Linked DNA regions of Homo sapiens: region 2 is linked to region 1. A link means that fine-mapping ties the variant in region 1 to the expression of a gene that starts in the linked region. Tissue or cell type: whole blood. Region 1 holds a variant in brackets; the other region holds the start of a gene. All regions are shown on one strand. Distances are from middle to middle.

Region 1 (8,100 bases):
GAGCCCTGGAGGCTGAGGCTGCAGTGAGCCATGATCGCACCACTGCACTCCAGCCTGGGCACTGGGGTGAGACCCTGTCTCAAAAACAACAATAACAAAACAATTAAAATGGCAAATTTTATGTTATATATATTTACCACAATAAAAAATAAAAACAATTAATAGAAAACAAAACCTCGGCCAATTGGATGATAATTTAGACACCATCTTTTGGGGGAGCAGGGGGACTCCTAATAAAGAATCAAAGCCAGAGTCCACAGAGCGGGGAGGCTGCAGGAGGCTGGACCTTAGCAAAAGACACAGGAGGGGAAAAGCACATTTTCCAAATTAAGTGGAAAACCTTCTGGGTTTTCTTCCAAGTCTTCATCACTTCTGCCTAGCAGACACCATAAAAGAACGCAGCTCCAGTGAAACTCTAAGGCAATGTACGCCCAGGAGCTTTCTCAGCATGGGAGCCACATCCATCAATTAACACGTCCCTCTCTCCAAAGGACTCCACGTGACAGTCACCTGTAGCAAGCAAGATGAAAGGAATCCATTTCCACCACCCACACCACAGCAGAGGCAATGATCACAGCTGCCCAGGAGAGAAGCTCCAGGGAGCCAGGCATGGCTCTGAATTTCAATTCGGCTGACTTTTGCCATCAACCAAGGACACAGACCTCACAGTACAACGTAACTAGAAACTGCTGCGGGAGGAAGGATCTGGTGGAAAGGGGCGTCCAGCCTGTCTGGACGGCACCAGCCTTCAGATGGGGAGCACAACAGCGAAACCGACGGCGGACATGGCGACCCATGTGAAAGTCTCTCCAGGCGCTCAGCCTCTCTCTGCCTCAAGAAAGTACCAAGATTTCACCACAATAACACAAGCTCCCACACCAACACTCGGTGGAGAAAGAGGCCGTGTGGCTCTGTAGGTTTTTTTTTTTTGAGATGGCGTCTCGCTCTGTTGCCCAGGCTGGAGTGCAATGACATGGTCTCAGATCCCTGCAACCTCCACCTCCCAGGTTCAAGCAATTCTGCCTCAGCCTCCCGAGTAGCTGGGACTACAGGCGCGTGCCACCACACCCAGCTAATTTTCGTATATTTAGTAGAGATGGGGTTTCACCATGTTGGCCAGGCTGGTCTTGAACTCCTGACCTCGTGATCCACCCACTTCGGCCTCCCAAAGTGCTAGGATACAAGCGGGCTCTGCAGTTTTTGTAAAAGAAGGCTGCTTAGGAGCCAGGCCTGTCCTGGAATTCTACACTAATGAACCTGTTGTGCCCCATGCTGCAGACTCCAGGTGGGCCTGAGGCCGCCGTGAGCACATCATTTGTGGAACAGGCCACACAAGCCTGACTCCGCAAAGTGCTCACTTCCGCTACAGCACTTGTTTTTCTATTTTTTATTTTTTGAGATGGAGTTTTGCTCTTGTTGCCCAGGCTGGAGTGCAATGGTGTGATCTCGGCTCACCGCAACCTCTGCCTCCTGGGTTCAAGCAATTCTCCTGCCTCAGCCTCCTGAGTAGCTGGGATTACAGGCACCCGCCACCACACCCAGCTGATTTTTGTATATTCAGTAGAGACGGGGTTTCACCATGTTGGCCAGGCTGGTCTCGAACCCCTGACCTCAGGTGATCCACCTGCCTCGGCCTCCCACAGTGCTGGGATTACAGGTGTGAGCCACCGCGCCCAGCCTAGCAGTTGTTTCAAAAATGCAAATCTGGCCGGCCGCGGTGGCTCATGCCTGTAATCCCAGTTACTCAGGAGGCTGAGGCAGGAAAATCACTTGAACATAGGAGGCAAAGGTTGCAGTGAGCCAAGATCATGCCACTGCACTCCAGGCTGGTGACAGAGTGAGACTCCATCTCAAAAAAAAAAAAAAAAAAAAAAAAAAAAAAGCCAATCTGTTCCAATGCAATGATGTATTAGGACAATTTGAGCACAGCACGGTTTCACATTTGCTCATGCACAATTTCCTCCACGAGAAACATTAAGTGAATGCAAAAAACTACAGCCGGCAGGGAACTGCGCAGGGTCACACCCACACACACACCTCCGTCTCTGACCTCCCTGGGCTCACTGCTGGGGCCATGACCCACTCTTCTCCACGCCTGGGGTGAGAACTTTCCATTTGATTTCCCACAATCCTCCTTCCAGTGTTTCACAAAAACTCATGCGCTACACCCTTCCACACTCATAAGCCAACTCCAGATCTTCCCAAGGTGAAGTGCCGTATTTATTGCAGCATTAACGTTTACGAATGCACAGTATTGTGGGATATAGCTAACCATTTAATGTGCAAAAGGCACTTTGCTATTTCCCAGGTTCCTCTCTTTTCTTACATGTCATTGATGGAGATTTTGAGGGCTGTGCCCTGGCCCCGCTTTCCCTATGAGTTGTGTCATTTTTACTGTGCGATTTTGCATAGGTGTCTTTCAGAAGAGCATATACAGCATTGTAGCAGAAATGACTGTACAGTTCCCACAAAATAAAGGATAAACCTGGATTAACCAGTACCAACTACCCCTGCATGACACACGACCATTTTCTTTCTTGAAAAGACAAAAGTCCTGTGGGGTCTGACCCCACCATGACTACTTAAACAACGGGGAAACCCAGTTTCTACATATAATCACAGTCTCGGGGTTCCACGCATCTCAGGGTCATACCCTGTGACTACATAATCGAAGCCCAAGTCATCATTCACCCAGAGCCATCCTCTGTTTCCTCCCTCTGCTAAGGACAGGGGCAGCAGCCTGGAAACCAGCAAGAGGAGCGCCTTGGGAAGCACACCCCGCACCCTTCCCACAGGGCACCTGCCTGGGTCCCGTCGTCCTTGGCTCGCTTGATGTTCTGGCGCCCATCCACCCAGTAGATGAACTTGTCCAGTGGGTCATAGTCGATGGCTTTGACGTTCCTCAGTCCATGCAGGGGCAGGATGAGATCCGGGCTGTGCTGGTCGTCCGGGATCATCCGACTGATGGCAGATTTCTGGCTGAACAGCAAGAAGGTGGTGGGCGCTAGAGGAGGCAAAGACAGGGCTGCAGGTGGGTGTCTGTAAGCCACAGAGGAGCTGGAGGACGGGATAGCACGCCACTCGACAACAGGCGGCTCAGCATCTGCCCCGCTGGAGGTCCACGGGAAAGACGGGGGGACCAGGGCTGTCTCTTGGGGGTGCGCTATGGGGAATTTCATTCTCCGTGTCATATGTGTCTCTGCTGTTTCAAAGTACATGTGTTATTTTTGAAATAGATCATAAATTTATTTTTCTTTTATTTATTTATTTTTTTTTTGAGATGGAGTCTCGCACTGTTGCCCACGCTGGACTGCAGTGGTGCTATCTGGGCTCACTGTAAGCTCTGCCTCTCGGGTTCACGCCATTCTCCTGCCTCAGCCTCCTGAGTAGCTGGGACTACAGGCGCCCGTCACCACGCCTGGCTCATTTTTTGTATTTTTAGTAGAGACGGGTTTCACCGTGTTAGCCAGGATGGTCTCGATCTCCTGACCTTGTCATCCGCCCGCCTTGGCCTCCCAAAGTGCTGGGATTACAGGTGTGAGCCACTACGCCCTGCCATTCATTCATTCATTCATTCATTCATTCGAGATGGAGTTTCGCTCTTGTTGCCCAGGCTGGAGTGCAGTGGCACAAAATGAGCTCACTTGAAACTTCCACCTCCCAAGTTCAAGCGATTCTCCTCTCTCAGCCTCCCAAGTAGCTGGGATTATAGGCATGCCCCACCATGCCCGGCTAATTTTGTATTTTTAGTAGAGATGGAGTTTCACCATATTGGCCAGGCTGGTCTTGAACTCCTGACCTCAGGTGATCTGCCCGCCTCAGCCTCCCAAAGTGCTGGGATAACAGTCATGAGCCACCGTGTCCAGCCCAATAAATTTATTTTTAAATGATGAACACTTAAGACGGAAGGCAGGTAATGGTAGTGAACACTGGTGGTGGAATGTAGTGAAACTCATACCCACGACTGTGTGTGCGGTTTGCTATGTGCCTATGTGTGCACCAGTGAACTGCGGAAAACCGGGCACAGTCAACAAGCCCGAGAGAAGACACTCCTCGAGGGTGTCAGTGAGCAGCACATGCCACCACAAGGCAGCCCCAGAATCAAGCTGGGCCTCCTCTCAGTGCACTGGTACCAGGATCCGAAGAACCAGCTCTCTAGCAGAACCAGAACATCCGTTGGCCTCTCCCTCTCAACAGCTAACAGAGTCTCCTGGCCTGAGTCCTGCCTGGCTTCAGAAGCTGTGGCACTTCGAGCGCACCGTCAGCGGGCTACAGTGGCTGGTCTGAAATCCAAGTCGTTGCACCAGGTACTGCCGGCCACAGGACGGGGACTCTGAGTCATGGCAACCCCTCCTTGCCGTGGGTTACCTGCACCTCCATTTGGCTCTCTAAGGTCATGGCCCCAGGGAGGGATGGTGAGCAAC[A/G]GGACCAAAGACAGCCCAGGCATGGGAAGTCCCAGACTCTGGCCCAGGCCCATCTCCTGCCAGCCTGGGCCTCGAACAGCCCCTTAACCTTTGCAAGCCTCAAGTTCCCCATCCATGCAGCTGGGACAGGCAAGACCAGCCCCGCCTGCGACCAGGTCTGCGTGAGACTCCAACGGGGCCTGGATGACAAAGAGCTTTATAAACTATCAAGTTCTGCGTAGGGAATCATAACCAGCTCGCTGCTGATGTCATGGGGGAAGAGCCCGCCAACAGGAAACACCTGTACTCCAGAGGGGCCATAGGAAAGTCACTCTTCTCATCACTGACATGAGAACAAAGAGGCCCACCTGCTTCCAAGGGTCAGGGCAAAAATTCCCCGAGCTGATGCCAGGCTGCCTGGCAAGGGTTCAGGAGCAGGGACTCTTGAGCCAGCCTGCCACAGTCAACCCCGGCTCAACCCACCCCAGTTGTATGGCCTTGGATGGGTTGCCACACCTCTCTGTGCATCGGGTTCCTTGTACGTGAAATGGGACCATGCTACTCCCCACCCTCCAGGCTTGAGGAGTAAACGAGCGCTATGGAAAGCACTCAGCACTGTGCTGGCAGTATGAGCAAGCACCCTTCCCCTGTGACTGGTTTTCACACCCAAAGATCCTGCCCAGGACCTTCCAGCTGAGGAGTTTTGGCCATTTATCTATGTCCTGATGAAGCAACAAGTCCATCCAGCCTGGACCTGGACCCCCAGGTAGCATCATGCAGCTTGTGCAGTGCACAACCTACCCAACCATCTATGTACACCCAGGAACCCCAGATGAGAAGCTCCTTTCAGCGTCAGCTCCCAGAACCAGCCTGATCTAACGAGGGAGTGAGGTGCGGGGGACCATGAGGCACTTACGGCTGCAGTTGCGGCTGCTGGGGTCCAGGGTGTAGTGTGAGGCGCAGCCGCAGCGGTGGCCGCCGGGGATGGCAAGGCACAGCTGCCCACACTGCCCGTTGTTGTGCATACAGTCATTGAGGCCATCCTGGCGGGAGGAGTGGAACACCAGGATGTCCATCACGAAGTCCAGGTGGCCCTGGATGAGGGTGCGGTTCCGGCCGCTAGTCTTGTCGGCCCGCTCAATGCTGTGCAGATTCCAGTCTGTCCAGTAGATATAATCGCTGTACTGCGTCAGACCGAACGGGTGCGGGAGATCGTCGGCAATCACGACCCGCTCCTGACCTGCATGAACACACACGGGCACGGTGTCAGCAAAGGCACAGCCAGGCCACAGAGCACACGGCGCCCTGCGGGGTGAGCCAGGGTTCAACCCTGCAGCCTAGCGACCACATGAATGCCTTAAAGTGTTTGGCCACCTTGGAAAACCAGCAAGATCCACTGAAGCGCAGGCAGGATCTAGCAAAATTAAGTGACCTGGCTACAGTCACACAGTTGCTAAGTGGCAGGGCCAGGATTACCACCCAGGCAGCGAGACTCCAGGTTCTTGTTCTCATCATGTCAGGCCTGGCTGTGCATCCTTCACTCCCACAGCAATGAGACCAGGCCTTCCATGTTATTAATCAAGCACTCAGTAAACATCCGGAGCGTTTAAGTCCAAAACACGTACCGAGGAGTGACGGCCAGGCTGCAATGCACATGGCCGCCCTCATTGGCAGGGTCACATGAGTTTCCAGGGCTTTTGCTGGTTTTCATCTGAGTCTGTCCTCACTCCGGGGTGATTAATGAGCTTAATCATTTCAGGCAACCACAGCTGTGCGGTGACTGGTTTCTCGCCTGGCAACAGGTTTGCATGCGGCCTGGATGAGCTGGGTCACGGGATGTGCTGCAGAGCTGGGTGACGGTCACGAAGTCACGTGCAAACCTTGCTACTGGCCTCACAAGTCAGGGTGCAGCCCACCCCCAGCGACAACCAGGACACGGGGTTCAACTGCCAGCTCTGCCTACGCAGTACCTGGGACAAGGCATTCAGCTGGTCGATGCCCCAGCCTCCTCATCTGTAAAATGGGCACAACCACACCCAGTGCAGATGGCGAGTAGGAGAGGCAGAGGTCAGAAGCCAAATTCTTGCTGCCCTTCCTGAGCGGTTCGACATGGCTGACGTGCTCAGAGGCTCTCCTAGGGCCAAGGTCACTGAAGGTCCCTTTGCCAGGGGACAAAAGTCAGGGCTGCCCAGGTGACCCTCTCCTCCCTTGTCTGCCCTCAAGCCAAGGGGTGCCTGGGGACTTGGAGCCTCAGAGCTTCTTTTTCTTCTTCTTTTTTTTTTTTTGGAGACGGTCTCACTCTATTGCCCAGGCTGGAGTGCAGTGGCATGATCACAGCTCACCACAACCTCAACCTCCTGGGCTCAAGCAATCCTCCCACCTGAGCCTCCCAAGTAGCTTGGACTACAGGCATGAACCACCATGCCCAGCTAATTTTTAAAAAATTTTTTTGTAGAGATGGCGTCTCACTACATTACCCAGGCTGATCTTGAACTCCTGGGCTCAAATCATCTGCCCGCCTTGGCCTCACAAAGTGCTGGGATTAGAGGTGTCAGCCACTGCACCTGGCCCTTCAGAGCTTCTGCCCCTGACCTTCTAGTCTCCCAACTTGGCAGGGGGGATGGGGGTTCCTTTGTTAAGCACAGTTGCCCCTGTCACCTGCCATATCACCCAGGACAGCTAACTACTCTAGCAGAACAGAGTGTGCGGTCCCCTTTTCTGGGTTCAAATCCTGCTCCTGTTGCTGTGTGACTTGGGATAGGTTTTTTTCAAACTTCCCTGAGCCTCATTCTCATGATCTGGAAAAAGGAGATGAGAGCACCAGCCCTGGGGTCCCGGGCGTGTGGACACTCCCAGCACAATCCCAGCACATGGTGGGGTTCAGGGCTGGGTGGGGATCGAGTGCTGGCCCTGGTATCTCTGGGGGATCCTGAACTCACCAGCTATGTGACCTAAGGCAAGTCATGTGCTCAGGCCTCAGCTTCCCCAGCAATGAAAACCACCATGTGTGTTAGGGTGAAATTAGAGTCCTGGCACAGGGATTAGCTGGGACCTAGTGCCCAGCAGGTGCACAGGAAACAGCTGTCACCAGAGCCTCTCCCGACATAACTGCAGCAAAGGCACCCAGGGGTGGACGGGGACAACTCCCACAGCAGAGGGTGAGGCTGCTGGGCAGTCGTGGGTGTGGCCACAGCTCCTGCCAGGTTGGGGAACTTGCAGGCCACAGGGTATGTGCGGCGAGGCTGGGAGGTGGCCAACGCCCGGCTGCCCCGCCCTCCATGACCAGAAGGCCCCAGCCCGGCCCTCACCCAGCATGTTGGACGACTCGATCATGTTGGTGTCCAGGTCGGTCCAGTAGAGGCGCTGGTCAGCGTAGTCAATGGTGAGGTCGTTGGCCCGGCCCACCTTGTCCACCAGCGTCATGCAGTTGGTCCCGTCCATGAAGGCCCGCACGATCCTCGGCTTGCCGCCCCACTCGGTCCAGTAGATGTAGCTGGAAGGCACAAGGGAGAAGGGCAGGCTCAGTGAGTCTGCTCTCACCGCAGGACAGTGGGTGGCGGGGGGACGCAACTGTCCCCACCTCTTCAGCTCAGCCCTCCCCGTCCTGGAGAAAGCCACGCGCAGGAAGCAGGGAAGGGCGAGACCCTCGACCCCTGCCACACACATATCCCTCCAGGGGTGGTCACTGCGCCACCTC
Region 2 (8,100 bases), 46 kb before region 1:
TTGTAACTTCAGATATTAACATTTAGCTGCTAAAAATTTATAGTTTTCCTAATATTCTTCCATTCCATAAACTAGATAATCTAAATTTTAATATGAGCAAAAAAGATCTACCCTTCTCTCTACCACTGCATCTCATCTCCCCAGGAGAAAAGAACACTTCTCTGCTGGGATCAGAGTCTAGGGCACAGAAGAGTCCAACTTACCAGTGGGCAGGATCACTGTGTTAAAGGCTGAGCATACTGTATGCCTATCTGTGCCCTCAATGGGCAGAACTGGTAAACTGATCCAGGGCTAATTCTCTGGGAATAGGTCTTTATTAAAACAAAAACAAAAACAAAAAACAGGCATGGTGGCTCACGCCTGTAATCCCAGCACTTTGGGAGGCCGAGGCGGGCGGATCACTTGAGGTCAGGAGATCGGGACCAGCCTGGCCCACATGGTGAAACCCCATCTCTACTAAAAATACAAAAATGAGCCAGGTGTGGTGGCACGCACCTGTAATCCTAGCTACTCAGGAGGCTAAGGCAGGAGAATCACTTGAACCCAGGAGGCGGAGGTTGCAGTGAGCCAAGATCATGCCACTGCACTCCAGCCTGGGTGACATAGTGAGACTGTCTCCGAAAAAAAAAAAAAAAAGTTGAAGCTGGCATCTAAAACCAGACCTGACCACTGACTGACAAAAGGAGGGCAAAAGATACTAACTCAAAAATTACAGTAGTGTAAGATTATTCAGCACAGAAGCAAACTCTAAATATCTAAGAATTTTGCTTAGTTTCAGCACAGTATGGTAATGTATTTTCATGAGGTTAAGAAAAAAAAGTCCTAAGATATTTTATAAAATCAATTAACAAATGCTTCTAAAGTTCAGTCTTCAGGCATCTGAAAAATGGTTAAGTATACCATCTAAATAATCCCCACTACTAAATAATCTCCAAGGCAGGATCTAGGTACTGCAAAGACCAAGTTCACAGATCACCGAAAGGAACCCTTAACTCACAAACAGTCCCTAAACCTGTGGTGTAAAACAGTGGTTCCAAAATTCAGCTGCATTTCAGTATTGTCTGAGAAGCTTCTAAAAAATAGATTCTCGTGGCCGGGCATGGTAGCTCACACCTGTAATCCCAGCACTTTGGGAGGCCGAGGCGGGTAGATCACGAGGTCAGGAGTTCAAGACCACCCTGGCCAAGATGTGAAACTCCATCTCTACTAAAAATACAAAAAACAGCCGGGCATGGTGGCGGGTGCCTGTAATCCCCGCCACTAGGGAGGCTGAGGCAGAGAACTGCTTGAACCCAGGAGGCAGAGGTTGCAGTGAGCCGAGATGGCACCACCACACTCCAGCCTGGGCGACAGAGCTAGACTCATCTCAAAAAAAATTAATAAGATTCTCAATCCCACCATTTCCAGAGGTGGAGTCCAACATCCATGGTCTTAAAAAATTTCTAATTATTCTAATGCAGGCTTATTCTAATGTAGGCCAGTCTCACATCTATCTAAGTGCAGGATTTCTCAACCTCAGCAGTGTTGCTATTTGGGACTGGATACTTTTGCTGGCGGGCAGGGAGGAGGCTATGCTGGACACTGTAGGATGTTTAGCAGTATCCTTGGCCTCTACCCTCCAGAAGCACACTGCCCACTCCCAGAGGTGTAACAAGCAAAAATATGTCCAGACACTGCCAAATGTTTCCTGGGGGGTGAGGGGGGAACCACCCCCAACTGAGAACTCTTGAACTAGAGTAAATCAAAAGACAATCATTTGAAGTTAAGAAAGGAAAGAAATATGAAAGCTGTTTAAAGCCAAGAGGCCAGATCTTTTTTTCAGTACATTAGAAAAAGTAGCAGCCAATACTGGGGTGCAGACCATAACTTCTAAGGACCAAGTCAATGCTGAGTTTTAGTTGAGCAGATAGAAGAGCTTTATTTTCACTATCATTTACTCTTATTTAGTAAAATACTGTAAAATTTTAGACCAAAACACACACACACACAAACACACACAGAGGCTGCCTCTCAAATACTGAAAATATAGAACTAGACAATGGAAGTTGTCATAGAAATAAAATACCGATCGTGACACTTGTTTTAAAGAGATGTTTATTTGTAACAAGCACATAATCTACCAAATAGGTGCAAAGCCCTATCTTTTTTTTTTTTTTTTTTTTTTCTGAGACTGAGTCTCGCTCTGTCTCCTAGGCTGGACTTGGCTCACTGCAACCTCCGCCTCCCAGGTTTAAGCGATTCTCCTGCCTCAGCCTCCCAAATAACTGGGATTACAGTCACACGCCACCATGACCGACTAATTTTTGTATTTTTAATAGAGACAAGGTTTCACATGTTGGCCTGGTCTCGAACTCCTGACCTTAAGTGATCCGCCAGCCTCGGCCTCCCAAAGTGCTGGGATTACAGGCGTGAGCCACTGCGCCCGGCCAAAGCTTTATCTTAAAAAGCTAGGCAACCTCATCCTGTCAATGTTACTTCTATTCATTTTCTGCTCAGCTATGGTCTGATTCTCAAATTCTCAATTAGTTCATTGAAACTAACAACTTTTTGCTTGTTGACTTTGCTTTGCTATACTTTACACAAAGGCTAGAGTTCTAAACCGAAAACAATCTTCTTCCTGTCCTTAAGTTCCACCAGCAAGATACTCATCTCTACTTAAGACTGAGTCCATCAAAACACACATCTCCAATACAGCAAACCAAGTCCCAAGTAAACACAACAATACCAGGGGAAGGTGCACGCAAGGTTTCGAGCACCATGGAGGAGAGTATCGGGCAAGCGGTAAAGGATTGTGAGTTTATTTCTGACTGAGTGCAGGCATTTTGTTCAATGTTCTAGACTCCCTGACCAGACATGCTGAAGTGGAGAATACCTTCCAAAGTATCCCTCCAGGACAAAAGCTATTTCCCAAACTATCTTTGCTGAAGAATACTGCAATCCACGGCACCCTTACAGTTTTCAGTAACAAGGAGGACTTACACTAAGAAACCCTAGTTACTGATTCGGGTGGCAGTCACCCAGAAACTAGTATCCAAAAGCACATGAGGAACAAAGCCCGACTTAAGCTTGTGATGGGCTTTTCTGTATTTAACCATCTCTTTAAACATTATGAGGCGCTACTACTCATTAATTACTCCGGTAAATGTTCCTAATTTAAGGAATGGTCAAAAACCCTGTCCTGAAAAAATTAAAATAACTTATAGTTTTACTTTTTCAGCCCAACTGAGTCTTACACAGAGCTTTCTAAAGGCAGTCACCAAGAGTCGGGACTCAAATGCTCATCTGACTTCCCAATAGTACCTAAACATTTAAAAATCAAATTTAAATTAAACAATAATAGCCATTAACTAGCCTAACCACTAATCAGCCACTGAGGTGACTGTATGTGCCAGGCACAGCTCTAGCTGTTTTACATGTATTAGGGCAATTATCCTGACAAACTTATGGCTGGGACACTTATTATTATTCCCATACTACAGAGAAAAAAAAAGAGAAGCTGGGTAACTTGCCCAAGGTCACAGAGCTAAAAAGTGGTCACTGACTCCACTCCACAGTGAGGAAAACCCAACCACCACCATAACTGGGTCTCATACACTTGCTACTTGAGGCACAGTTCGGTGGTTGGAAACCTGGAGTCCCTGTCCCCCTTGAAGCCTATCTGCAACATGACCTTGAGGACAAAATCAAAGTAAACGTCCCACGAATAAAGGACACCACCCCGTCAACAAGTGCTGCGAGGATGAAAGGGAACGCCTGTCAAGCACCCCCTCCCATAAAAGCAAAACAGACCCAAAGCCCCACAGAGAAAACGTGAAGTACCAGGAAAATGACATTAAGTCACGCGGTTGAAACGTCAGGGCACGGAGGTACATCCAAAGACCCATCCCGTTCACCTATAATTAAAAAGTCTAAATTGTGATCACAGCCAGCAGGACCTCAACAGGAAACACCTCCAAGTAAACAGTGAATGGGCTTCTTTAAGAGGGAGGGACTTCAAGCCACAAGAAGGACCACCCACCCCCCCCACCCCCGGCTCAAATACACCAGGGAGGCATTCGAGACAGTTTACATACAAGCCACCTCACAGGAGTTAAAAAGCCACTGGGAAGGGTACTGGGAGCCTCGGAACTGGCTGGTGTGGATCCCGATGACTCTGCGGCGAATTAACAGAAACCCACAAAACTTGTTTCCCGAAGAGCAGAGTCCAACAATGGTCTTCGCGACTCTTGACGGCGAGTTGCTGCCTCAACTTGACGCGCTCCCCGAGGCCCCCGGGAGGCCCAGCGGGAGCGGAGACCGGGCGCGGGCCGGGCGGGGGGCGAGACTGCGGGCCGCGGCCGGCGGGCGGGAAGGCTGGAGCCAGAGCCGGGTCAGGGGCGCGCCTCGCCCGCCCGCCGCGCCAGGCCGCGAACGTCAACGAGGCACAAAGTCGCCGCCCCGACCGCGTCCCGCTCCCGGCGCCCGTCCTGGCGGGGCCCCCGGCTAACAGGAGCGGACGGGGAGCGGCCGGGAAGGACTCGGCGCCGCGCCTCCCGGGCCCGCGGAGCGACGAATTCCGGGGGGGGAGGGGAGAGGGGCCGGGACGTTCCCTCCCTGAGCCGCTGAGGCCAGGTGGAGGGGCCCCGCGCCTGCCCGCGCGCCTCGCACACCCCGCGCCGCGGCCTGCTCCGGCGCCTCCCCTACCCCCATTACCTGGAGGTGCCCACGACCCGCCGCTAGTTGCGCTCAGGCGGGAAACGCGCTCACCGACACCATCAGCGAAGCGCCCAAAATGGCGGACGTATCAAGCAGGCCTTGAGTTCCCCCCCGCCCGCCCTCTGGCCGCCTCTCAGCCAATCGCGGCCCTGCCCCCGCCCCCAGCTCCAGGCTCATTGGCCCCTCTCTCCCGCCCCCTACTACCTATTGGATCGCCTAGCGGCTCCTTTGACTACATTCCGATTGGCCCGCAAGCCTCGTCAGTCAAGCGCGAGGGGCGCATTCTTTTCCCATGGACTTGACGGATCCGGAACCTCTAGGACCCCGGAGCCTGAGAAACAAATCAGAAACGGGGAGAAACCTGGCTGGGACCCCCTACGCCGTAGCAACAGCAGGTCCTCCGCTTGACGGACGCTTCGGACCACCAATCCGAGTGGCCAATGCTTTTTAAAACTAAATTGAGCCAAGCCCATCATGGCCGTGGAGCCGGAGCCGTGAGGGATCCAATAGGGTGGCGAGCTGGCCGGGCGGGGCGGGGGCGGCGGGGGACACCGGTGGTGACGTGAGCCACAATATGCGCCGGCTGCAAAGGTTAGGCCGGGCTAGGGAATCAGCTTAAGTGGAGGAGCGTTCGTTTAGTATGTGAGAGGTAACGGGATCGATGCCTGCATTCTCCACAGGGGAATTTTTATCAGAATGATTTCCCATTGCGATCTCTTTACCTGAAAGAGGTGGCTGTCCTCGTAGCGGGGTCAAGGTGAGGGATCGCGGAATATCCCTACCTGTGACGCACCGCCAAGAGATAAGTGCCCTTGTCCTGGGAGAAGGACTTAGACGAGAACTTTTGGGGTTTGGTTTTGTTTGAGACGGAGTTTCCCTGTTGTCCCCCAGGCTGGAGTGCAGTGGTGCGACCTCAGCTCATTGCAACCTCCGCCTCCCAGGTTCAAGCAGTTCTGTCTCAGCCTCCCGTGTAGCTGGGATTACAAGTGCACGCCACCATGCCCGGCTAATTTTTGTATTTTTAGAAGAGACGGGTGTTTCACCATGTTGGCCAGGCTGGTCTCGAACTCCTGACCTCAGGTGATCCGCCCACCTCAGCCTCCCAAAGTGCAGGGGTTATAGGGGTGAGCCACCGCGCCTGGCCTGGGGTCTTTTTTGAGACAAGGTCTTGCTCTGTTGTCCAGGCTGGAGTGCAGTGGGGTGATCATGACTCACTGCAGCCTCCACCTCCTGGGCTCAAGCAGTCCCCCCACCTCAGCCTCCCGAGTAGCTGGGACCATAGGCACGCACCACTGGGCCCCGCTAATTTAATTTTTTTGTAGAGACAGGGTTTCCCTGTGCACACGAGCTTCTAAATGCTCCCCCGGGCTTCCCGTTCCCCGCCATATCTGTGCCTCCCAGGTAGGACCGAGGTCCCGGACATCAGGACCCCCGCCCCAAGAGCCAGCCCAGGACACCGAGACAGCCCACGGTTAGACCCCATGCTAATAACCTGCCTTATTCCAAAATGGATTTGAGGCGCCTCTCAGAGTCCCATGAAAATCCACAGGAGGTCACGGCGCGGTCACGCCTGTAATCCCAGCACTTTGGGAGGCGGAGGCGGGTGGATCACGAGGTCAGGAGATCGAGACCATCCTGGCTAACACGGTGAAACCCCGTCTCTACTAAAAATACAAAAAGAAAAAAAAAATAGCCGGGCGCAGTGGCGGGCGCCTGTAGTCCCAGCTACTCAGGAGGCTGAGGCAGGAGAATGGCGTGAACCCGGAAGGCGGAGCTTGCAGTGAGCCGAGATTGCACCACTGAACTCTAGACTCGACGACAGAGCGAAACTCTGTCTCAAAAAATAAATAAATAAATAAAAACAAAAAAGACTGGTCTCATAAGATTATGATATTGTAGTTGTACTGGACTTTTTTTTTTTTTTTTTTTGAGATGGAGTCTTGCTCTGTCGCCCAGGCTGGAGTACAATGGGGCGATCTCAGCTCACTGCAACCTCTGCCTCCTGGGTTCAAGCAATTCTCCCTGCCTCAGCCTCCCCAGTAGCTGTAATTACAGGTGCATGCCACCATGTCCCACTAATTTTTGTATTTTTAGTAGAGATGGGGGTTTCACCATGTTGACCAGGCTGGTCTTGAACTCCTGACCTCAGGTGATCCACCCACCTTAGCCTCCCAAAGTGCTGGGATTACAGGCGTAAGCCACCGCGCCCAGCTGTACTGGATCTTTTCTATGTTTAGATACACAAATATTTACCATTGTGTTACAGCTGCTTTCAGTATTCAGCACAGTAACATGCTGTATGGATGTGTAGTCTAGGAGCGATAGGCTATCCCATATAGCCCAGGTGTGTAGTAGGCTAGACCATCTGGGTTTGTGCTAAGTATACCTGTGATGTTTGCAAAGGACAAAATTGCCTAACGATGCATTTCTCAGAACACGTCTCTGTTGTTAACTGTACTAAGCCATTTTATATATGGGACTTGAGAATCCTTGGGGGTCCCAGAAGCAATCTCCCACGGATACAGAGGGACAACTGTATCTACCAGCCCGTGTACGCGCCACGAAAAGTACTGTGCTTCTGGGGAGGCTGCAGACAGGGCAGACCTTTCTCACATTGATCCTGCTACTCAGAGAGGCATGGAGGAACATAGTCAAGCCGGAAGCCAGCCTGGGAGGTGTGCTCTGTGTGGGGGTTAGGGAGGGGATTCACAGGCTGATCACCTGGGCAGGGCGGGAGCGGCCATGCCAGGGAAAGAGGCCGAGGCAGCAAGGTGGAAGGAGCACACCCCGTGGAAGGCAGGGTGGGGCTGATCTCAGGTCTGGGGCAACAGCTCGAGAAGCAGGTGCAGAAGGGACCATGGAGGCTTTGGAAGCCAGGCGGAGGAACCTGGGTTTATGCTCAGACCATGGGAGCCAAGGAAAGCTTCCGGGCAGAAGAAGGGCTGGCCATACTCTAGAGAAGATGGCTGGAAGCGAGAGCAGGGAGCACCAGGTGTAGCACAGGGCCAGAGGGGCAGCTTGGAGCTGGACTAAGGAGCCCAGGAAAGGTTTCAGAGAGTCCTGGGACTGGCTGGTGCCTGAGAGGGAGGCTGGGCCATGGGCAGGAGGGGGCAGCCAGGGCTGGGCTCCCGTCCGTCCTTCCGTGCTGGGGAGCCCAGGGAGGACCCAACACCCCCACCGACCCTTGCATCCCTATACTCACTCATCATCAAAGGATTTGCCAGTATCTGCACCAGGCTCCTCCATCCCTGACTCTGAGGTGGGTCACAGGGCCATATACATTATAATGAAATCATATAGTACCTTGCCCAACGTAAGTGGGCCCCTAAGGTCTCCACTTATGGTTTGCTTCTAACCTAACCAGAAGGTTGAAGTCAGGGAGGACTTCCTGGAGGAGGAGGTATC

What was found. PIP is the estimated chance that this variant, and not a neighbour inherited with it, causes the effect.
Region 2: it holds the start of PPP6R3, and the variant in region 1 is fine-mapped to the expression of PPP6R3 in whole blood (INTERVAL, PIP 0.92).

The regions. Positions count from the first base shown.
Region 1 is chr11:68,411,232-68,419,331 of GRCh38, reverse strand. It overlaps LRP5 (LDL receptor related protein 5), which reads right to left. Exons shown (of 23, transcript NM_002335.4): 11 at 7,712-7,896; 12 at 5,320-5,643; 13 at 2,805-3,004. Among named protein-coding and RNA genes, the nearest start is that of PPP6R3, 45 kb to the left of the region's middle. RefSeq lists enhancers at 210-1,133, 6,076-6,235 and a silencer at 1,698-1,767. The variant A/G (reference allele first, on the strand shown) is at 4,425.
Region 2 is chr11:68,457,420-68,465,519 of GRCh38, reverse strand. PPP6R3 (protein phosphatase 6 regulatory subunit 3) reads right to left here and starts at 4,768. Exons shown (of 24, transcript NM_001164161.2): 1 at 4,693-4,768. RefSeq lists silencers at 4,308-4,417, 4,468-4,517, 4,528-4,897, 5,208-5,357 and an enhancer at 5,038-5,097.